3 separate regions of the Homo sapiens genome follow, and regions 1 and 3 are each linked to region 2. The links come from fine-mapping of genetic effects on gene expression. A gene starts in region 2. Each other region holds a variant in brackets. All regions are shown on one strand. Distances are from middle to middle. Region 1 overlaps FMO5 (flavin containing dimethylaniline monoxygenase 5). Region 2 holds the start of PRKAB2 (protein kinase AMP-activated non-catalytic subunit beta 2). Region 3 has its middle 18 kb from the start of TRQ-CTG3-2.

The links. PIP is the estimated chance that this variant, and not a neighbour inherited with it, causes the effect. A credible set is the group of variants that fine-mapping cannot tell apart.
Region 1: its variant is the best candidate, but not a certain one, in a credible set for the expression of PRKAB2 in monocytes after LPS (Quach 2016, PIP 0.81).
Region 3: its variant is the best candidate, but not a certain one, in a credible set for the expression of PRKAB2 in anterior cingulate cortex (GTEx, PIP 0.53).

Annotation. Positions count from the first base shown.
Region 1 is chr1:147,198,193-147,206,375 of GRCh38, forward strand. FMO5 (flavin containing dimethylaniline monoxygenase 5) reads right to left here. Exons shown (of 9, transcript NM_001461.4): 7 at 2,960-3,312. It also overlaps a transcript of CHD1L not described here and the pseudogene CCT8P1. Among named protein-coding and RNA genes, the nearest start is that of FMO5, 23 kb to the right of the region's middle. The variant CT/C (reference allele first, on the strand shown) is at 4,120.
Region 2 is chr1:147,167,949-147,176,131 of GRCh38, forward strand. It overlaps PRKAB2 (protein kinase AMP-activated non-catalytic subunit beta 2), which reads right to left and starts at 4,522. Exons shown (of 8, transcript NM_005399.5): 1 at 4,481-4,522; 2 at 4,041-4,219. The coding sequence starts at 4,196. It also overlaps a transcript of CHD1L not described here. RefSeq lists silencers at 4,182-4,451, 4,622-4,851.
Region 3 is chr1:148,010,895-148,019,077 of GRCh38, forward strand. It overlaps a transcript of GPR89B not described here, the pseudogene PDZK1P1, the pseudogene TRR-CCT6-2 and the pseudogene RNU1-129P. Among named protein-coding and RNA genes, the nearest start is that of TRQ-CTG3-2, 18 kb to the right of the region's middle. RefSeq lists enhancers at 2,260-2,971, 2,972-3,683. The variant G/A (reference allele first, on the strand shown) is at 4,690.

The DNA of each region.
Region 1 (8,183 bases), 30 kb after region 2:
TCAAATAAGAAGTTTCTACATCAGAATTTAGAATTTAATTTACCTCAAGGCTAAACTGACATTTCTTAGAATAGATGTTTATTAGATACCTCTTATGTGCTAGGCAGTGGTCTAGGCTTGCAATACAAAGGCAAATAAACATGAGTCCTTTACTTAAGGAGCTATCACTATATTACAAAGGGAGGGAAGAAATATGCATAGACTTTTCCTATAGAAATAAAAAGTAAAAGGAGGGCATATCAAGAAGAAAGCACAGTGGAAGCAAAAGCACAGGGTACAAGGGTACCTGCTGTGTTTGCTGCTTAGTGGGTACGTCATCCAGTGCATCTAGAGTATTGTAGGAAGTATGGTAAAGACTAGTGAAAGATGGGCCTGAGGCCGGGTACAGTGACTCATGCCTGTAATCCCAGCACTTTGGGAGGCTGAGGCAGGCGGATCACGAGGTCAAGAGATGGAGACCATCCTGGCTAACATGGTGAAACCCCGTCTGTATTAAAAACACAAAAAAACTAGCCGGGCATGGTGGCGGGCGCCTGTAGTCCCAGCTACTGGGGAGGCTGAGGCAGTAGAATGGCCTGAACCCAGAAGGTGGAACTTGCAGTGGGCCGAGATAGCGCCACTGCACTCCAGCCTGGGCGACAGAGCGAGACTGCATCTCAAAAAAAAAAAAAAAAAAAAAAAAAGAAAGAAAGATGGGCCTGAAATTGGAGGTTGTATCCAATTTGTGGAGGAACTTTAATGCCAGCCTATGACATAATGACTTCTTGTGATCCAGAGATTTGGTGTAACTTGATATAGTTTTGAAGGAAAGAAAGTTGCTGAGTGAAAATAAAACACTTGCAAGGGCTGCAAAAGACGCAATCAAAACAGAAACTATGTTTCATTTCAGTCAAGGCAAGGAAGTAAATTCAGTGTTCTAGAAAAGAGTAGAATATTTTCTTGACAAGAGAACAATAATTCCAGAGAACAGAAGAAGAAGGAAAATGGGGCTTGGTAGGGAACAGACAAGGAAGGAGGCAGGCTTTGTTGGGCAGACATGAAAAAAATGGGAAAAACAAGCTAATCCAAAGGGTTTAAAATTGGCATAGTGAAGGGATAATTCAGGGAAGAGAAAGGCAAGAATGTGGGAGGCAGACAGATTGGCCATGGACAGAATAAAAAACCCAGAGTTCCTGTTGGAAGTCTGGTAAAGTTAGAGAATTCTGAAGATTTCTTCCTTCCAGGTGTTAGAAAAAAGCTGGAGGAATTAGCACTAGGCTTCTGCTAGCATAGGAAGCTGGGCTTTTTGTACATTTTCCCTAAGATCCCATAATCTCATAACCATAATGCAGACTCTTGCAAATACTCATTTTCTCTATTTCCTCTCAAGAATTCACTTGGTCTTGGAAAAGAGTCCCAGTTGCTTAAAGTATACTAAGATGCTGTGGCCTGTTTTAATGAACTGTTCTCCGCTTATGTAATTGACCCAATTAAAAGATCACTTTAATATGACTAGAATTAGGCCAACTTAATGGGCTATTTGCGTTTGACTACTTGTATAGTTCTCTCAGGTAGTACATAATCTGCTGGATAGGACTGGAAGTAATAGAAATTTGGGGAAATTTAGAAAGGTTGTTGAACTATCAACTGTAATACCATTGGTTCTTTTTTTCTCTGCAACTGTGAAGATTTTCACTAGTGAAAACAAAAAAGGTGTAATTCCAACAGGAACTCTGAGTAGTTTTAATTAAATGCTAGTAACAATAGCAAATTTTGTTATAACAACCATAGAATCAGTGAATTTCTTCTTTAGAAGGACCCTTAAACATCATCTTGTTTCTCTCTATCCTGAGGCTTGAATCTACTCCATACCTTCCCCCTCTCCTGCCCCGGCCCAGTGAGCATTCAGTCATTTGGCATCCTTTTCCTTTTCTGCTTAGAATTTCAGAGGCAGCTGGTTCCATCATGAAATGGCATTGGCTGATAGGAAAAAGGTTTTGGATTTTTTTCTTAATGGTAAGCTGATGTGTAACCCTCAAGATTTCACTCCTTGATTCTGGTTTGACCCTTTGAAGCTATACTGAGTAAATCTAATCCTTCTTCCATGTGCCTTCCCTTCAGATATTTGAAGGAAATTCTCATATCTCTCCTGAAGTTTATCTTCTCCAGGCTAAATCTCTCTCCGGCTTTTTCAGTTGTACTTCAGATGGCATGTTTTCAAATCCCTTAAAAAATTTTTCTCTCTCTCCTTATTAAACGCACTCCAGCTTCACTTTTAAAATGTATCATTAGGTGTGGTCTGGCCAGTTTAGAGAACAACAGTTGTAATGTTCTAGAACATTATAGTTTTTTAATGATGCTAGATTTAATTATTTCTTTGGAAGCTATATCATTCTACTGACTCATATGAAACCTATTCCCCTTTTTTTTTCATATATTCCTAGCCAAAACTGAAAGAGGGGACATAAAAGGAGAAAAGTGAGAATTTGGGGGATTGAATATCCTACAATATTGACTAGTCTGCAACCAGGTCTTAATTTTCGGCCGAAATAAAGTCATACTATTTCTATATTTTATTTTTATCTATAATGAAAGAAGATAAAACTATTTTACTTCAGAAATATATGCCAGTTGCCTAAAATCTAGATGAGTAAATTCTAATTTGGAGTACACATTGGAATTACTGGGGAATATTTTTCTCAAAGATGTTATGACTGCCCCACCCCAGACTAACTAAATAAGCATCAGCAAGGATGGTGTCAAAGCATGCATAGCTTGGAAAAATTTCCCAGGTATGATGTATGTCCATGGTTATAAATTGCTACTTTAGATTCACTCAAAAATATATTTTTCTGTACTAACTTTGTGCTAGGCACTGTTGTAATCATACATGCTATCTCTAGCTATTTAAAAACAAGTACCTAAACAGAGGTAAACATATCACCAAGTAATTAAGTAGTCTATTTGCATGGTCACTTACCTTTAAATACCTGAGTGGCCCAGCGTCCTTGGAGCTCTGAAATGGGCATAATGGCTCCTAAGGGCTGAATCAAGCCTATGATTGCAAGAGTTGGCCTTTCCAGGTTAGGAGGGAAGACCTTTTTATACAGGGATATCTTGTTTTTGACCACTTTGACGGAATCTTCCAGAAATGGAAAGTCAAAGCTATAGCCTGTGGCAAAGATAACAGCATCAATGTCATCCTCCCTGGAGCCATCCTCAAATATGGCAGCTGTCTCCGTGAATTCCTTCACATTTCCTTTCACTTTCACCAAGCCAGAAATGATACGATTTGGCAGGTCATCATTTAAGGTTGGATGCTGACTCAGAGCTCTGTGAGTCGTGACAAAGATCAAGTGGAGAAATGAGAGAAAGAGAAATCAGTACCACATAAGTAAAATTTTGCTTTGGTGGAGGTAAACAGGATGCCAATAATCTTCCCCTTGGTCTATGCATGAAGTTTGGAAAAGGTCTAATTTATACTAGGTTGGCACAGATCAAGATCAGATCTGAAGTTGGACCCTGGATGCACTGAAAGGGAGAGTGTTGGAGGAGTGAAGGAAGAGTGTTGTTTGAGGAGTGCATATATGATTTCTCAAGTAACAATAATATTCTGTGTGTGATATGATAAGGCCACAGGTCAATAGTTTGTATTCTCATACCAAGAAGTCTGACAGAACTAAGCTGTCAACATTCTGTTCAGTCTCATTTCCAGTTTCAAAGGCTCAAGAGCTAAGTTTAGGCCACTGTTTTCCAAACTGTATGATAAATTACATGTATGTAGCAATTTACAGTTTATAAGTTGCTTTTACATGCATTAACTTGACTCTCACAAAACTCTATGAAGGAAGCAGAATAGGTGTCATTATCCAGGTTTTATAAATGAGGGAATTGAGGCCTAGAAAAGTTATGTGACTTGTCCAATGATACACAGCCTAGGATTTTAGAATTTATCTCAAAGTTGTTTTCAGTGAATTATCTTGGTATACTTCGGGCTTGTTATTGTTTCCTAGGGACAGCGTAGGATACGGATACTGGAAACATTGGGTTGGTGCAAAAGTAATTGCTTATTTTTTTGCCATTACTTTTAATAATAATAAGGCTGGTTTCTAGTATCGTGGAGCTTTCTAAAAAGCAGTT[CT/C]TTTTTTTTTTTTTTTTTTTTTTGAGACAGAGTCTCTACTTCTTTTGCCGAAGCTGGAGTGCAGTGGCATGATCTTGGCTCACTGCAACCTCCACCTCCCAGGTTCAAGTGATTCTGCTGTCTCAGCCTCCCGAGTAGCTTGGACTACAGGCACCTGCCACCATGCCTGGCTAATTTTTGTATTTTTAGTAGAGACAGGGTTTCACCATGTTGGCCAAGCTGGTCTCGAACTCCTGACCTCGTGATCCTCCCACTTCAGCCTCCCAAAGTGCTGGGATTACAGGCGTGAGCCACAGCACCTGGCCTAAAAAGTAGTCTTAATGCCTGAATACTATATTAACTCATCTTCAGACAGAGCTGTCCTGGCCTCAGGAATTTTATATGTTTAAATTACCACTACTGGTTTGTTGCATTTAGTTATGCTTTGACACTAGGTCGATTGTGTTCTGCATTCCAACCTCATGATTTCATCTTTTTCTCCAAACCTACTCCTTTTCACCAGCAGTACCACCATCCATCCATATAGTTGCCCAACCCACAAAACCATGAGTTATATATCTGGTCACCAAGCCTTTTCCCTTTCTCCTCTTAACATCCCCAAGATAGTTTTATCTACTCCTTGTTATCTCAACCAGATGATACAATTGTCTTTAGGACCTCCTGTCTCATCCCACTCCCACACCATTTTCAAAATGGTCTTTCTAAAATGTAGGTATGATTATGTTACTCACTTGCCTAAATCTTTGAATGGCTTTGGACTGTCTTCATTCCATACTTTTTATTTAGTAGACCAAAGGTTTCCTTTTTTTTTTTTGACAGTAACAATATGTTTATTATAACATCCAGCCAAGAATACAAACACAAAATACCTCTTAATGTAAGGAGAATAAGAAAACATCACGCGATTCTTAGAATACTACTACAAATACAGCCTTCACCTACAGTAAAAATTAAGCCAATTTCAATCATTTTGGTCATCATCCCAGTCTTTCTTCCCACTTGGAGGCTTGGGCCCACCATCTGGTTTTGCCATGATTACCTGACCCACTCTAAGTACAGTGACTGCAGCATTAGCAGCGAGTTTGATAGACCAGTGTTTTCCCAGGTAAGTATCTAGAACACCAGCTTCCAACATGTCCGTTACAGCAGGGACTACAGCCTCAGTATCTAATCCAACATTTTTATTTCCTTCTTGAGGTACTGCATAAAGTTTAGAGATTACTTCATTGGCCTTAACTCCAGAGTTTTCTCCAGAGTATTTCTGCCAGTGCACGGGGAATAGCTTCAAACGCCTCAGCAAACTTCTTAATAGCGTACTGTTCAAGTCCAGGACATGTCTCTCCATATGATGTGATCTGTTTGGCTAATTCAATTTCTGTTGCTCCACCTCTGGGTACAAGACGTTTATCCCTTGTAAGAACTTTGAAAGTATTAACACCATCATCTACTGCCCTTTCTATGTCATCCATCAGATTGTCTGTAGAGCCCCGAAGTACTATGGTAGAAATGATGCCATCTTCCTTTTCATGCTTAAAAACCACCACCTGAGTATCTCCAACTTCTGAGAGGTAAACACTGTCTCAGTGTCCCATTTCTTCAAGGACAGGAGGTGTCAATCTAGGAAGAGCTGTAGCACCAACTGTTTTACAGAGTCTTCGGACATCCCATTTTGAGTTTAGCTTCACTAACATCATATTATATTTGTTTGCATAATGAAGAGCCATGTCTGCCACTTTGCCACCTGTTACTACAACATTTGCACCAGTATCAGCAATAGCTTTGACTTATGCATCCATGAGATTTTCTTCTCCCTTACTTAAATTCATCAATTCTTCATCAGTCTTTATCAACACTGTTCCCTTAGTTTCTGTTATCATGCCATCAAAAGGACAAGAGTACACTGCTATTTTTGCATCTTTGACAGATGTACATCACCTTCTGTTTCCTTCTTAAAAACCATGCCATGCAATACTGAAGAGGAAGTGATACCACAGCCCAGAATTTTACAAACTCTGATGTTATCAACTTTGAAATGGCCAGAATCAGGAAAAATAGATACGCATGCCTGAACAATAAGCTTGGCCAGAAATACTTCATTACCATATTGTTTACACATTACAGAGGTACGAAGTAGAGATGAGACTTCATCAACATCTCGAAGGTTTTTTGCAGAACAACGTACCAAATTAGGAAGAATCTCATGAGCTTTTCTGCAAGCTATTTCATAACCTTCTATGACCTCTGAAACTGACAGGCCAATCCTCAGAAGTTCTTCAGCTAATTCCAGGAGAGCTCCGGCAAATACCAGAACAATGTTTGTGCCATCTCCAACTTCTTGCTCTTGCATATGAGAAGCCATTACAGTCATTTTTGCAGCAGGATGCTGTACTTCTAGTTCTCTTAAAATAGTCGCTGCATCATTTGTCACAAACAACTTCTCCAAGTGGTTGATAACCATTTTTTTCATTCCATTTCGTCCATATGCTGTACGAGTGGTTTGGGCAAGCTCCTTGCAAGCTTGTATGTTTCTATACACAGCCTCTTCTAATTCTGAAAAGTGTTTCGCTCCCTCCTTGAGCATCTGGGCGAAGCCCGGAGCCTTGGGAACTTGAAGCGCCATGGCCAGCCTGCAGGAAGCCGTTCACGTGACCGCTCAGAAGACCGCGGAGGAACCAAAGGTTTTCATGCCTGATGAACCTGGAGATACATTCAGTCACTCTTCCATCTTTGCTATATAGTCCAGCCATACCAGACTACATGCAAGTCCTGGAGCATAATGTATTTTTTGCTGTTCCAAGACTTTGTCTTTATAATTAGAATGCTATACCCTTGCTCTATTTGTTTGGCTATCTCCTATTATTCAACAAAGCCTCAATTTATTTTGCAACCACCAAAAACATGCATGCTAAAATAATTAGGTGAAAGGTTTTTAGGAAACACAGTTTCCAAATGTCACCCCACTGATTAACTTCAACGGGAAAAAATATCTTTATAGTGGAGAAACTTGATGGTATCTATACCACCTTATCTAAGTGGTCAAATTTAGCATTATTACTGTGAGATAAACTGACATAATGTGGTTCTTGATGTGACCCACTAAGATCAACATGTCCTATGTAGTATATGTGTCAAAAACATTTAACCTGAATATAATAAAGGAAAAAAATTATGCAAGTCTAAATTTAGAGACTCTCTACAAAACAATGCCTTGGGTTCTTAAAAAGAAAGCCCATGTCAAAGAGAGAATTATTTCTTATATAGACCAATGGAACAGAACAGAGCCCTCAGAAATAATACCACATATCTACAACTATTTGATCTTTGACAAACCTGACAAAAACAAGAAATGGGGAAAGGATTCCCTATTTAACAAATGGTGCTGGGAAAACTGGCTAGCCATATGTACAAAGCTGAAACTTGATCCCTTCCTTACACCTTATACAAAAATTAATTCAAAATGGATTAAAGACTTAAATGTTAGACCTAAAACCATAAAAACCCTAGAAGAAAACCTAGGCAATACCATTCAGGACATAGGCATGGGCAAGGACTTCATGTCTAAAACACCAAAAGCCATGGCAACAAAAGCCAAAATTGACAAATGGGATCTAATTAAACTAAAGAGCTTCTGCACAGCAAAAGAAACTACCATCAAAGTGAACAGGCAACCTATAAAATGGGAGAAAATTTTTGCAATCTACTCATCTGACAAAGGGCTAATATCCAGAATCTACAAAGAACTCATACAAATTTACAAGAAAAAAACAAACAACCCCATCAAAAAGTGGGTGAAGGATATGAACAGACACTTCTCAAAAGAAGACATTTATGCAGCCAACAGACACATGAAAAAATGCTCATCATCACTGGCCATCAGAGAAATGCAAATCAAAACCACAATGAGTTACCATCTCACACCAGTTAGAATGGCGATCATTAAAAAGTCAGGAAACAACAGGTGCTGGAGAGGATGTGGAGAAATAGGAACACTTTTACACTGTTGGTGGGACTGTAAACTAGTTCAACCATTGTGGAAGACAGTGTGGCGATTCCTCAAAAAGAA
Region 2 (8,183 bases):
GGTCATCCCTAGAATAAACTGTGACCCAAGAATTCTAAAAAGGTCACTCTCCTCCCTAGGATAGAGAAGGGTGCTAGGCTTTGGCTAAGGATATAAACCCCAAAATTAGCAACTAAATCAGAGTTTGAACAAATTATAGAAAAAGAACTCATCTAGGACCAAAAATGGTCAAATGGCCTATGCTCAAGCACTGCCTAAATCATAGCCTAACTTTTGAGTCTACCTGTGTCACTTACCCTTCCAGAGCCTTAGACTCTCCCTTAAAAAAAAAAGAAAAAAATAACTCCCTACCACTAGTTTAACTCATAGGCAGGCAATTATGATATGCTTCTGAGTCTTTCTTCAGAGGAAAAAAAAATGAAAACAAAGTATGGTTCTGTAAAAGATAATTAAGTCAGCCATATATTTTTATAGGCAAATATGAATAGCTCTCAATTACCAGTTGTAATGGAAGTCAGAGATATCAAAATTCATAAGTAATTCATAAACTGTATTTCAGCTAAGAAGTAAAAAGAAGAAACATTAAAAATTCAAAAACTAGATCACTGATTTCTTAAAACTTGAGAAGTGGCTATGAAATCTTACTTATTCCCCTATCCCAGGCTTATACTAATTATTTCAGGAGTAGGAATAAAAATTCTAGAACCTCAAGAAGCAAGAGATCAAAAATACAATTTCCTTTATCAAAAGTAGCTCTCTTATCAAATGAGGTTTATGGGATTGTAAAAACAGTAACTCCTGTTTCTTTTCATTACTATCCTTTGGACCAAGAGTTGGCAGACAGCCAGTAAGCCAGATGCTTTTATCAAGTGTTATTTGAAAACAGCTCTGCCCATTTGTTTACCTATTATTTTACTGATTGATTGATTGAGAAAGGACCTTGCTCTGTCACCCAGGCTGGAATGCAGTGAGTGGTGTAATCATAGCTCACTGCAGCCTCGAACTCCTGGGCTCAAGCCATCTTCCCACCTCAGCTTCCAGAGAAGCTGAGACTAGAGGTGTGAACCAACATACCTGCCTTGCTTACCTATATTGTCTATAGCTGCTTACAGGCTACAGTGGCAGAATTGCGTAGCTATAACAGAGACTGTATGGTCTACAAAGTCTAAACTATTTACTATCTGGCCCTTTACAGAAAGATTGCTGACCCCTATTTTAGACTGGTTTAAGTGACTTTGGTAAATAAGACTGTATAGTATTAAGCCTAAATATTACTAAATTGAATAATGTGGGTTTTTTTTTAAAAAAAGGACTAGCTTATTCATTTGGGCTTTCTTTTCAAAATGGTTGACATAGCTTCCCTCCATACATTCTCTTGATATTCCTCAAAACTACAGTATAGCATATCAGTAGCAGGATAATCCAAAGTAAATAGAGAAAGAGAATTGAAAGGACTTTCACATAAGGAATTGACTTAAGAGAAAACTACATATTCTCAGAACAATGCACTCTTGACTAACTGGCTGCGTTAGAATTACAAGAATTTGACATATGCCTAAGAATAACCCTCAGATTCGGATGTAAGATCTGGGAACCTATTTTTAAAAAGCTTTCTAGATAACACTGTGATTATGTTAAAATAAAGGAAAAAAAGCTTCCCAGATATACCGTGATTATGTTAAAATAACAAAGAAAAAACCCTCATCTTTAGAGGTACATCCTAAAATGTTACAGATAAAATAATACTTGATATAATATCTGGGAATTTGCTTCAAAATAACTAGTGGGAGAATAGTGGACTGGGGTATAGATGTTATATGTTCATTCAAGATATGATCATTGTTCAAACTGGGTGGCATGTATATAGATGTCATTATACTGTTTCCCCCTACTTTGAAAGTGTTTCAAATTTTCCAAAAACTATTTAAAGAAATCTGAGGTGATTCTAATGTGCAAACAGGATTGAGAACCACTGAACTAGTCCACTGAAAAAGGCAGGCATTCAAAGCAAAGTAGGCCCCCCTGCCACTGTTTCTGTCAGTTACTTTTATGACAGGATTTTCAGTTTAGAATTTGAAAGCTACAAACTATTAATATGCCTAGCTTTGGAGGAAAGCCCTTCCACTTATGACATGACATTTCTGTAGTAGGAATGAATGCAACTGACTAGCAGAAAGATTGTTTACTCCAAGTTACTCAGCAAAACTACCAGGAAAAGAGGCAAAACGACAATCAGAACTACAGTTTGATGTTTAAGTAAAATGTTGAGTTTAGAAGTAAAGAGGCTACATTGAGAACTATAAAATTTTAGACTTAAATGAGACCTTAGGAATTATCTGATTTTCAGACAATCTGAAAATTATATGAATAATTTTCTTAATTCACAAATGCCAAGACTGAGGTGAGAGATAAGAATAATACAAAATAGGCCCCAATTCAGACAGAGCAACCTGGCTTTTAATCAGGACACCAATTACTGCAGTCACAGTTCGACAAATACACTGTATTTAAATCCTGAGTCATCAACATAGGAAAAGGGTAAAAATATAATGAGGCGGATCACCTTTCGAAAGCTTTGAAGAAGTAAATTCAGATGGCTTGTAGATAGCCCAAATAAGAATGGAGAATTGGAGAATAAACCCCAATAAGTGCTCCTTTTAATCACTCTCACTTCTCTGTGATTATGGTTGGTTTTTTTGTTTTTTTGTTTTTTTGTTTTGAGAGTCTGTCACCCAGGCTGGAGTGCAGTGGTTTGATCTAAACTCACTGCAACCACCGCCTCCCGGGTTCAAGCGATTCTCCTGCCTCAGCCTCCCGAGTAGCTGGGACTACAGGCATGCACCAGCATGCCCGGCTACTTTTTCTGTATTTTTAGTAGAGACGGGGTTTCACCATGTTGGTCAGGCTGGTCTCGAACACCTGACCTCAAATGATCCAACCGCCTCGGCCTCCCAAAGTGCTGGGATTACAGGCGTGAGCCTCTGCGCCAGGCTGTGATGATGTTATCAATTGAGATCCAAAGAAATAAATCATGGAATCCAAATTCCATGTGCTACCAATATGGCAAACAATACTCTATTCACTCTCTAAAGCCCCAGTTCCCTGGGAAGTGATGAAATGATAGGAAACATCAAACACACCCGAATCTCCTCAAGCCCTCCATTTTTCTATCTCATCCAGTCAGTCTACCTGGAGGAATTACTTGTATTTCATGCTGACAGCTCTGAAAGCCATTAGAAACATTAGAATGGTAATCGCTGCTATCAGCTCCATCTGTCCTTTCTTACAGAGTGAAAACAAGTTGTTCTCTTCCTGAAAGTCCTTGGAATTGAGAGCAAGGTCTTCAGGGCAGCTGTGGGTTGTCGTTTTTTTAGCCACGCAACATTTTGAAGTACTACTGAGGAGTAAACAAGTCGTGGAATCATTGGCTCTTCCACCTACGGAGCAGCAGCGGGGCGTGAAAGAGGCACAGCCTCAGCCACCACAACTATAAAGTATGGGACAAAAATTAAGCAGTCAACTAAATGATGTCCTTAATTGATCCCCAAGACTAGGAGAAAGTATTCAATAAGCAAGTAGTTGCTGCTTACAGCCGTGCCAAAAGGGAAGAGGATCACAACTGTAGAGCTGCTAGAAGAGCAAAAATGATACTGATACATAGAAATTTTCAGAAAAAGAATTTCATTTAGCCACCTCAGGGCAAAGGTGAGAAACTACCACCTATGGTCAGCAACTCGTGCAACCTACCCTCTGAAGTTGTCCACCAGGGATTACAAACTACAAATTCAGCAACGCTATGGAAGAGAGCCATTCGTGCTCGGAGGATCGGGGATGGGGGGATGTCTATTGTCCCCATCCTAAAAATGTGGCCAACAGATTAGTCAGAACACCAGGAAAGCAAGAACTCCGCCTCTTTATCCTATTTTGAGGCGGCACTTCAAGAGGAATTATCATCCAACACCTCTGTCCCCGATAAATCCCTTTAATTCAAAAAACCATAGCCCGGTTCGGCGCGGTAGAAAAGAACCAAGAAAGGGAAGAGGAGCCCAGAAATCAACCCGCTGCAGTACTGACACCAACTGCGGGCATGGGACGCTTACCTTGGAGTCAGGGAGGCTGAACACGCTGGGGTCGTCCGTACTCCCCACCATGATCTTGTGCTCCTTCCCCGGGGCATGGCCGCCTGCGCCCTCGGAGCGTGCAGCCTTGGCGCCGTGGCGCTCCCCGGACACCCGGTCGCTGGTGGTGTTTCCCATGGCTGCAGCTCGTCGGGGACCACCTACCGCGGGGAACGACACCGGGCTGGGAACACCTCAGCCGCCGCGTCAGGGGCGCCCCCCGGCCCCGCCCCTGCGCCTCGGGACAGGGCAAGGGATTCCCCGCCCCAGGGAAGCCGAGCCCTGGAGCCCTCTCCCTCCTGGCCTGCGGGAACGCCTGCAAATACCCCGGTGCCCTCACTGGCCCTAGCTCAGGAAACCCGCTATCGGGACCTCCCCCGCGTCCCCGCGCTCACTGCCAGGGGCGCCCCCACTCCAGTCACCTCGGGCGATGCGCTCCCTCCTCCAAGGGCCACTGATGTGATGGCTGTTCTGCAGATCAGGCCACCAATAAAGTTATTGAAATTGAAGCCGCACCCCTCGCTGGCGACCAGCGATTCCTCCTAAAATGGCTACAAGGCCGGCGGCGCGGAGTCCGCCCAGTGCGCGTTCCCTGCGGCCTGCAGCCTCGGCGCCCGGGACCCGCCGGCCTCTCTAGCCGCCGCCGCCGCCGCCTCGATGGTGGGCAGTCGCACGCAGCCTCCAGCGCCAGGAGGGGGCGCCAGGCAGGGCCTGTCCCGCCTGGGGAGACTGCGCCCGGGATAATAGGAGCGCTTGGCCTCTGAGACTACCCGGCAGAAGGGACGTCCCCAAATGACACTCGGAGGCCGCCTCCCTGGGCTCCGGTGCTCGGTGCCGGGAGGAGCGGCACGGCTTTCTACCCCGCCTCAGGTGCGCCAGCACGTTTTCTGGGCAGCATCTGTGTGTTAGGCGACCGGAGAGGTGGGTTCCTTATAGGGAATAAGAAAACTGAAACTGACTTCCAACTGCAGGCAGAAGGAAGCAGTGGTCATTGCTGGAGGTTAAAACTGTTCTGACCGGGCGCAGTGGCTCACGCCTGTATTCCCAGCACTTTGGGAGGCTGAGGCGAGCAGATCACGAAGTCAGGAGATCAAGACCATCCTGGCCAACAAGGTGAAACCCCGGCTCTACTAAAAATACAAAAATTAGCTGGGCGTGGTGGCGCGCGCCGGAAGTCCCAGCTACTTGGGAGGATGAGGCAGAAGAATCGCTTGAACCCGGGAGGCGGAGGTTGCGGTGAGCCGAGATCGCGCCATTGCACTCCAGCCTGGCGACTCAGCGATACTCCGTCCCCCTCTCCCCGCCCCAAGAAAAATCTGTTCAGTGGGGAGCGACAAGGAAGGAGCTTTCAGCCCGACTGGGGTCGCAGGGAAGAATTCAAGATGGCGTGTTTAGGAGCTCTAGCTCCTTGACAAATTAGTAAAATGTTAGTCTTAGGAGAAGAACGAAAAGGCTCTCCTAGGCTAAGAAACAGCATACACAGTGAGAAACCTCAGAAGAAATAAAATTCAAGGAAGATAGCAACAACGAAAACATCAGAAGGAACACTAAAGGTATAAAAAGGGCAAAGACAGCCCTAGGGTTGGGAGGGATCCAGGTTTTTTATGAAAATTAGTGGAATCCCTAAGGTACTTACCTTTGTATTATAAGTATTTGCATGTCTCCTTCTAGAAACGTTTATCACTCTGTGTTACACAGACCAGCAGTGTTGGCGTCAACTGGGAGCCTGTTAGAAATGCAGAATCAGGCCCCATCCCCAGGGTTCTGAATCTGCATTTTAACAAGATCACATTAAAGTGTGTGAGAAGCAATGCTTTGACAGCTGGCAGAGAGCAGATCCAGATTTGATACCTTTTCATATTCTGCATGTACCTTATACAGAGTAGGCTTTTGCATTTGCGGAATGAAGGATACAGGAATACTGTTTACTGTAATCCATTTCTAACCAGATATGCCACTTAGGCTTAAACACGGCCAATGATGGGGAACCCCAAGTTACATAGGCCACCCTTTCTGAGTGAGCAGCTCTATTTGCTGAAACGTTCATTTTTATATTATGAAGTTGACATCCCACTTAAGTACAACAAATTCACTACTCCCCTATTCTTTGCTCTGCCTCTTATAAACTCATTCTTTGGCTCATAAACCAAAGACAGTTTACAGGAAGAAAAAAAAAAGGTACGATTTTACTGCAACTTCTTGCTCACCCCTCCAAAATCTTTATGTCTGAGTACATGCTTTTTGGTTATCCCTACTTTTCTCCCTCCACCCCTCAATTCCTTACCATAGGACACTGAAGCAAGGCCCTTGAAGATACATAATACATTAAACCTTGACTTGTGTAGTATTCAGTTTTCTGACCCCAAGGTGGTTTCACCATGCCAAATAATATGTCCTTGGTATGTATTTCCTTGCAGTAGTCAAATCAGCCTAGCAGAAACAAAGTACGTTAACCAATGGAAAACTGACGGAGAGAAATAAACTGTTTTTGCACAGCTAAATGGAAATGACTTTTGAATTATCTGCTTTGGAAGATTATCCATGACACTGTTCTGCCCTGCTCTGCTCTAACAACATTTGTAAGTCACTCAACAGTTAATAATAAAAGTCAGTTTTGAATATTGCAGGTTTTAGACACAGAACAAATGTAATGTGACACTGTAGGAAGAATGAATTCTCCTTAGTCCCAAATTCCTTTTTTTTTTCTTAGATTCGGGAATAAGTAAAGATACAAGATCCTCTTAACCAGTATCAGTATAATTGTTCCCTTTAGATTTATTGCTGTCACCCCAATGCTCTTCTTTCTTTCTAGAGGAAAGGAAAAGAAGGAGGTAATAGGAAAAGTAATGGGTTGTCCTGATGTTACTGTGTCTAGGATGTCATTGCCACTGGTCTCCTCAGATCAATCATTCTGCCTAATAAACAGAAAAATAACATGGGCAGCCTCACATGCAAGCCTTTACACACACTGCTAAAGAGACCTCGCTTCCTCTGAGAAGTGAGGATGTGAGAATGAAGGATTGATTTTACAGAACTGGATGACAGGTTAAATTGGGCATCTGGAGGTTTATATTCCCATCTCCACTCACCAAGTTTCATCCTCCATTTATGACCAAGGATAGGTATAACATCTGATCTTGATGGTTACTGTTTCAAAAAACAATCTGATCTTTTTTATAAAGTTAAACATTTACTTAATCATGCAGCATACTAATTCCCACTCCTGGGTATTTATCCGAGTGACATAAAAACAAGTTCACACAAAACCTGTAAACACATATATGTCTTTATTCATATAATAGAAAAAACACAAACCCTAAAATGGAAAAAACATAATGTCCTTCACCTGGTGATATGGTTTGGTTCTGTGTCCCCACCCAAATCTCATCTCAAATTGTAATACCCACGTGTTGAAGGAAGGACCTATAACCTTCACGTGTCAAGGGAGGGAAGTGATTGGATGATGGGGGCGGTTTCCCCCATGCTGTTCTTGTGATGGTGCATGAATTCTCACCAGAGATGATGGTTTTAAAAGTGTTTGGCAGTTCTTCCTTCATTCACACACACTCACTGTCTCTCCCCTGTGCCACATAAGATGAGCTTGCTTCCCTTCTACCATAACTGTAAGTTTCTGAAGTCCTCCCCAGCCATGCAGAACTATAAGTAAATTAAACCTCTTTTCTTTATAAATTACCTAGTCTCAGGTATGTCTTTATAGCAGTGTGAAAATAGGCTAATACATCTGGTGAATCAATAATTAAAATGTAGCATAGCTATAAATGGAATACTACTCAGTAATAAAAGAATAACTCGATACATACAATAATATTGATGAATCTCAAATGCATTATGGGAAGTAAAAGAAGCCAGGCTCCACTTATGTGACATTCTGGAAAAAGGAAGACTATACGGTCAGAAAACAGATCAGTGTTTGCCAGGACTTGGGGGTGGGGGGTGGGGAGTGATTGACTACAAAAGGGCATGAAGAAATTTTGAAGGGGAGGTATGGAACAGGTCTGTATCTTGACTGCAGTGGAGTTATTGATACTTACCAAACTGTACAATAAAAAGTAAATTTTTATTGTATGAAAATTATGCCTAAATTAAAAACTATTAATAAAATCA
Region 3 (8,183 bases), 840 kb after region 2:
TTGCCTGACATACGTCTCCTATGCAAGGCTTTGCTCTGGGTGTCCTTTCTGTTTGCTCGGTGTGTCTACTCAAGAGTCCTATACAAATCTATTTTAGAAACACTGCTTCAAAGTCCTTCCAGAGACTCTTCAAAATTAGATCTAGTGAAACCGCACTCAGTGGAGCATTGGTAGTTCAGCGGTGGCATTCTCCCCACCTACGCGGGAGACCTGGGTTCAACTCCCGGCCAAAGCAGGCCTTCTTACCCTTCATGCTCCAAGTTCATGCTTGAAGGGCTATTACATTTCTAGCCAACAAAGTTATTGTACTACACAGGCTGTACAGCATTTAGGGGCCTTGAGTCGTGGTGGCTGGAAGCTAAACCTGCCACCTCTGGAATATTCTCTGTGCTGGATCTAATCTTGAAATTACATTTCCTCTGCTCAAAGCCTGTCTTTGAAAGTGGGGGTGTTTCCGGTGGTTTGCTGCAGTTTGGAGTACTGGGAACTAAATAAAGCCTTTGCTACTTTCATCTAGTCTCCGGGCACACCCCTGAGTAATCCAAAGGCCATCAGACGGATTCTCGTGCTGGACTTTCCCCTACCTTAGGCCACATCTCACTATGGAGTGAGGATCAAGAAGTAAAGGTCTGGGAAGGAGAGAGCTGCAGGGGCCAGGGAGACTCTTCGTGAGTCGGAGAGCCATCAGCGGCCCAAGGAAAAGGGAGGATCGTGGGGAGACGAGGGGAGCAGTGGAGATGAGGGGAGCAGCGGAGACAGAGTCTCACGCACAGGTATGCCCAGACACCCTGAACCCAGTTACTTAACCTCGTCAACCACTGTGGCATCCGCGGGGTCCGTGGGCCCATGGGTCTTCCGGGAGGGATTCTGTGTCCCTGTTATTGTGTGTCAATAGGTGTTAGCCTGATATTTATATTTTTAATGAGAGAAAACAAACTCCAGAATTTGGGAACTGTTTTTCCGGTTTTGCTTTATACCTCTTGGACACTCCTTCGAAGGACTGGATCTGAGGGGCATTGGGGTGCGACTACGGTGGACAAGGGATGATTAATTTTCATCCAAAAATCTTTGGTGGATTCCCCCGGCTCTCCAGCTCACCAGTCTAACAGTAGTTTAAAACAGAAGATCAGCAACGTTTGGAGAGTTTTTTTTTCTTTGCGTTTTAATGATAAACTTGATTTATTCAATTCTATTCTGAGGTTGTCTTTCTATATTTTGAGTATAAAACGATGGCCATACTATGTTGGAACCACTAAGGTTCTTCTCTTCACTTGTTATTCGTAAAGTCTCTTTGTAATCTGAGAATTTCCTGAGTAAACTGGGAACTGTTATACATAATTCCTTGTTTTTGAGCATTCTTTGTAAACAGGAATCAGGATTGGGGGTGGGGAGGGAGGGAGGAGTAGGAGTGCTGATTTGTGTAACGGAAAATCATGGATTACTTATGTGATGGAGCAAAGGTTTAAAAACTCTTAGCGTCCCCGGATTTCCCCTTTTACTGTTTGCTGAAGAAAATTCTGTCTTTGACTCCCTTCCTTACCCTCTCCTGGCCTGTGAGCTGCTTCCTCCCTATTCAGTTTATTTCCTCCTCCCCTCCCCGCCCCACTCCCCCACCCCCGCAGCCCCCTCCTCTTTTTCAGTGAAGCTGCTGGAGGAAAGTCGGGTTTGGGAGAAGACCCACACAGGCAAGGACAGCAGAACACTGACATATAGTTACACTCTTGTCGCCAGCACTGTCATTAAGATGTTGTGAAAAGACAAAGACAAAAGAGGAGAGGAAAGAATAATATCTCCGTTTCAGGAGATATTCCACAATATTCCAGGATGTTGTGCCTACTGTCCAGAGTCCTTGATCCGATGTAGTAAAGAGCTAGGGACATTTTCACTGAAGGCTTTGATTGCTGGCAAAATCTCATTAAAAGTGTATACATTGATAGGTTGGCCACAGAATGGCCAAAGAAGAGCCTCTGGCCTACATCTGCCAAGATATATGTGTAAGAATACACTCTGCAGCATTATTTTTTATTGTAAAATAGCAGAACGAATTTATTATTCAATAATTATAAAATGTTCAAATGTATGTGACTATATTCGGACAATGAAAAATGCAGCTGTTAAAAATAGACAATACTGATGATTCAGATGATGTTACTGATGAAAATAATAACAGATGACAATTATTGAGCATTTATGCAATCTTACATGCATTACCTTATTTAAAGTTCAGAACAACTAAGGAAATGAGTAACTTGGGGCGGGCGTGAGAGGTTTGGAGGCACAAAAGGAAGATAGGCATTCAAGGGACACCAGGATAGAAGAGCCACAGTAGAAGAGAGAGGAAGAGGAGTCCGCCAGGTGGGATGCTGCAAGCCGCTGGATAGCACGGCGGAGATAGGGCGTTCCTGCCCCGCAAGCCTCCCTGCGACCGCAGGCCTCCGGCCGCCTTCTTCCAGGAAGACGCGCCCTGCTTTCTTCTGATGTTGGTAGAGACGCTGCAAAGCGCATCGTCCTCGAGCATTTCTTCTCTCCCCAAGACCCTCCGAAGGAGCATTTCTTCTCTCCCCAAGACCCTCCGAAGGAAGGATGGGCGGACAGACTAAGTGGTCAAACGCGCAGAGCTCCAGCTTCCGCAGGAGCATTTCCCGAGTGTCTTTCATGGGTAAGAGTGGGCCCTGCAGGATAATGCCTCCCGTTCCCTGAGGAGCAGTGCGGGAGATGCCCATGTGGCCAGCTCCTGGGCCACGCGACCCAGGCCCTCCAGGAGGAGCGAGGAGTCCTGGGCCCTGAGCCAGCCCCCTGGACCGGCTGTGCCAAGAGAAGCAGCAAGGGAAGGGGTCCCCTCCTGCCTCAGGGTCTCTGTCCTCCTGGGGTTAAGAGACGTGCATCCAACTCCCTCTCCAAGTGCTGGAGAGGAGGCTAGGTCTTTCCCACGGGCTGGGGGCCTTGCTGTCCCAAGGACGGCTGGGGAGGAGGAGGAGGCCGGTTGAGATATGTGAAGCAGCTCTGGCTACAGCGGGTAGGGAGAGGGCGCGCGGGACCCAGGAGCCTCCGTGCGGAGCCAGGCCTCAGGAGCAGCCGCCTTGTTCCTGGAAGGGGTGCCTCCCTCCATCTTGTCTCCAAAGACTGTAGGGAGACCTTCTCGCCCGGTAGGAAAGCGACGTCTCCCATGCTTTCCCACCACGCAGGCCTTGTGGCCTTTCTCCTGCTAGTGTCTGCCCTCCAACCTGCGGGGGCTGCGGCTGCCACGGTTCCACGCTGGGTGGACGCTGCCTGCCCGGGATCCAAGAGCCGCCGTTGCAGGCGGGAGTTGGGGAGTCGTGTGCAGGTCCGAAGGAGACCCAAGCTCTTGGTCAAGGCTTTTTTGCTATAGCCAAATTCAGCGTGTAAAAGACAGAGAGCTCACATCTGTCTGTTCGTAAGCTTCGGTGAGAACACCAAGGAAGCGCACTCAAGATTCGTAGGAGGGCGGGAAGGGTCCCTGGCGGCGATATCCACATCGGCGGTGAGCCAAGGCATGTCAGGAGAGTGAGTGCGCGAACCCAGCCGCCGGATAGCGCAAACACCACCGCGGACGAGGGCCCCGCATGTGGAGAAATCGCAGGGGTCAGCGGAGCCGAAGTGTGGTGGACTAGCCTCCTCCAGGGAGAACCCCCTTCCTGACCACTGTATGTCCCCCGCCACATAAGGGGAGAGGAGGGACAGCACAGCCTACTCTCCCCTGGCCGACGATCAGGGTCACCACCTTCTCCTCTGCTCTCCCCTCGCCATTCTTCCAAACCACCCTCCGCCAAAGATTCCACGGACAGTCACCCTCCCAACAACCCAGGCCTCCTTTCAGCAGCGGCTCCCGCCCCACAGCCACCGCGCCCTCTCACCCCCGCGGTTCTGCCCGCCGCCTCTGCCGAGTCTGTGCACTTCACCTCCCTGGGTCCCGCTCCCCCCTGAGCTTACAGTGGACGAGGGGCAGGACGGGGGGAAGGCCATTCGGCTGCCCTTCTAGCTTCAGAATCACCCAGTGAACGGGTTTCAACCGTAGCCGGCAAGATGCGCCTCTCCGGTTTTCCGAGGCTTTGGAACCTGCACAATTGTTCTGCAAAAGACGGTGGCTCCGCCTAGCATTGGATGGGCGCTTGCTCTGCATGGTGATGCCGGAGCGAGGGTCGACTGTCCGTATGTCGCAGTCGGGTGGTGTGCTTGCTTCCAAGTCTGGAGTTGGCTGGTTCAAGCTCGTTCTACTGAGCGTTTCTTGCATTTTAAAAATGCTTAAACCGCTGGCAACTTTCTTCTACCCAGCACATTCTCTCATGGAATGGCAGAGCAAGACCAACTTTACCCGCCTCTCCTCCGTGTCTCCCATACGACATGAGGACGTAAATCAAGGTCCGCTAGGATTCTAGGATCTCTCTCTCTCTCTCTCTCTCTCTCTCTCTCTCTCTCTCTCGACGGAGTCTCTCTCTGTCACCAGGCTGGAGTGCAGTGGCGCCATCTCGGCTCATTGCAACCTCCGACTCCCTGGTTCAAGCGATTCTCCTGCCTCAGCCTCCCGAGTAGCTGGGATTATAGGCACGCGCCACCACGCCCAGCTAATTTTTGTATTTATAGTAGAGACGGGGGTTTCATCATGTTGGCCAGGATGGTATCAATCTCCTGACCTCGTGATGCACCCGCCTTTGCCTCCTAAAGTGTTGG[G/A]ATTACAGGCTTGAGCCACCGCGCCCGGCCTTCTCTCTATTTTGTTTGTTTGTTTGTTTGTTTGTTTGTTTACTGTCATTCATTTAGCCCTTTCCATACGCTTTTGAAGTTAAATTGGTTCTGTGATTTTATGATTACATATAATGTTCTAGTCATTCTTGTACGGGCATTTTCGGCGTTTTCAGCCACTGGTGTATTTCTATAGGATAGAGGTGCAATTACTATAGGAAGAGCAATTACTCCATCATAGTGTTCACACGGTTTTTATATCATTCCATTCTCTCTCCTCTGTTGGCTTATTAGCTATAACTCTTTCTTTTGTTACTTTAGTAATTCCCTTAGGGCTTATAGCAAACCTTTTTAACTGAACACAGTCAACCTTCAAGTGATATTAAACCTCGCCTTCTGGCCTTGAAGTTATTGCTGACATGTACTTTGCTTTTACGCATGTTATAAACCCACAACCCATTGTTATTGCTTTTGTTTAAATGGTCAAACTTTTACAAAAGAAATTTACAAAATAAGAAAATACCTAGTATAGTTACCTATTTCTGGTGTTCTTCATTTCCTCATGTAGATCTGGATTTTCATCTGGTATTGGATTCCTTCTGCCCGGAAGACTCCTTTGACGTTTCTGTAGTGTGGGTCAGCTGGTAGTGAATTCGGTCAGCTTATGTAAGTCTCTAAATGTCCTTACTTCACTTCCAGTTTTGGGAATTTATTTTTTCTGGCAGAGTATTCTAGGTTAACTTCCTCTGCCCTCAGTACCTTAAAGATGTTGCTTCTCTGTCTGCTCCCATTGCATTGCTGCTCCCAGTGGGGGCCGGCGAGAGCAGAAAGAAAGTTGATGGCAATTCTCATCTTTGTTCCTGTGTAGGTACAATGTCTTTTTCTTCTGGCTGGATTTCAGCAATGTTATTATGAGGTATCTAGCAGTGGTTTTCTTCATGTTTCTTGTGCTTTGGTTTCCTCAGCTCCTTGGGTCACTGGATTTATAATTTTCATTATGGTTGGGAACTTTTCAGCTATTGTTTCTTCAAAAATTGGCTGGGAACAGTGGCTCACACCTTCAGGAATCAGGAGGTGTTGAGTGAGGCCGGGAATTGGAGACCAGCCTGAGCAACATACTGAAACCCCACTCGTAATAAAAATAACAAAGAAAGAAAATAAATGCTTCCTTTCCTCCCCGCTCCTTTTCAGGGACTCACATTACTCATAAATTAGGCCTCTTAAATCTGCCCTACAGTTCACTGATAATCTTTTCATTTAAAAAAAAATCTTTTGTCTGTGAGTTTCATTTTGCATATTTTCAATTATTCATGGTTCCATATTCCCTGATCATTTCTTCTGCAACGTCTAATCTGCTGTTAATCCCATCCAGCGAATTTATCATCTCTGATATTTTGGTTTTGTCTTGCTTGCTTGCTTGCTTGCTTGCTTGCTTGCTTTCTATCTTTCTTTTTCTTTTTCTTTTTTTGGATGGAGTCTCACTCTGTCGCCCAGGCTGGAGTGCAGTGGCGCGATATTGGCTCACTGCACCCTCCGCCTCCTGGGTTCAAGCGATTCTCCTGCTTCAGCCTCCAGAGTAGCTGGGACTACAGGTGCGTGCCAGGACACCCAGGTAATTTTTTGTATTTTTAGTAGAGACAGGGGTTTCACCGTATTAGCCAGGATGGTCTCAATCTCCTGACCTCGTGATCTGCCCCCCTCAGCCTCCCAAAGTGCTGGGATTACAGGCGTGAGCCATTGTGCCCGGCCTATACACAAACTTTTGTATTAGAATAGAAAAGTTGAGAAGGTAGTTCACAGAATGGAGTAAAGAGGATGAAATGGGTTTTTGGAAACCATTCACATTTTAAAGTTGTTTTAGGCCAGGCGCGGTGGTTCATGCCTGTAATCCCAGCACTTTGGGAGGCCGAGGTGGGTGGATCACGAGGTCAGGAGATCGAGACCATCCTGGCTAACATGGTGAAACCCCGTCTCTACTAAAAATACAAACAAAAAATTAGCCAGGCGTGGTGGCGGGCACCTGTAGTCCCAGCTACTCAGGAGGCTGAGGCAGGAGAATGGCGTGAACCTGGGAAGTGGAGCTGGCAGTGAGCCAAGATCGGGCCACTGCACTCTAGCCTGGGTGACAGAGCGAGACTCCGTCTCAAAATAAATAAATAAAATAAAATAAAATAAAATAAAATAAAGTTAACACCCCTCACCCCCAAAGAACAATGTGTGTTCTCCCCAGACATCCCTTTATTAAAATATGCAGAGAAAGTGTAGGATAAAAGAGCATATGCTAAACTCCTCAGAATGTGTGTCTGGAAGTGGACAGGGGAATGGGAGTGGGATGAACAGAGAAAAGAAGGAAAGACAGTAAGGGCCTTGCTGAGAGCAGCCACCATAATGTGCCCTGAGCTAAGGTACATGATTACCTTCTTCCTGTGCACCTGAGATCTAAGAGAATATATTAACAAATCAGGGATATGGAATTTCAAAAACACTATGGGAAAACAACAAATTTACCCAAACAGAACAGTCTACTTAAGAAAGGCAGGAAGAGGCCGGGCGCGGTGGGTCATGCCTGTAATCCCAGCACTCTGGGAGGCCGAGGCGGGCGGATCACGAGGTCAGGAGATCGAGACCATCCTGGCTAACATGGTGAAACCCCATCTCTACTAAAAATACAAAAAAAATAGCCAGGCGTGGTGGCGGGTGCCTTTAGTCCCAGCTACTCCTGAGATTGAGGCAGGAGAATGGCATGAACCTGGGAGGCAGAGCTTGCAGTGAGCCAAGATCATGCCACTGCACTCCAGCCTGGGCAACAAAGTGAGACTCCGTCTCAAAAAAAAAAAAAAGAAAGAAAAGAAAAAAAAGGCAGGAAGAGATTTTATAAACAAAGCAAAAACACAGAAATCATACAATGAGGTGGTGGGAATGAGACTAACTATGCCCATCATCTCCAACATAACACTAATTACTGCTAATTATAATGGATCTAAGTCTCTCATATTGGATAGAAAAGGAAATGTGGACTCTAATGGTTCAATGGCAGAAAAGGGTTAAATATTCAAAGCAGTGCACATTATTATTATTATTATTATTATTTGAGACAGAGTTTCACTCTTGCTGCCCAGGCTGGAGTGCAATGGTGTGATCTCAGCTCACCACAACCTCCGCCTCCCAGGTTCAAGCAATTCTCCTGCCTCAGCCTCCCTAGTAGCTGGGATTACAGGCATGTGCGACCATACCCAGCTAATTTTGTATTTTTAGTAGAAACGGGGTTTCTCCATGTTGGTCAGGCTGGTCTCGAACTCCTGACCTCAGGTGATCCGCCCGCCTCGGCCTCCCAAAGTGCTGGGATTACAGGCATGAGCCACTGCACCCAGCCTATTATTATTATTATTATTATCATTATTTTGAGACAGAGTCTCGCTCTGTCACCAGGCTGGGGTGCAGTGGCCAGATCTCGGCTCACTGCAACCTCTACCTCCCAGGTTCAA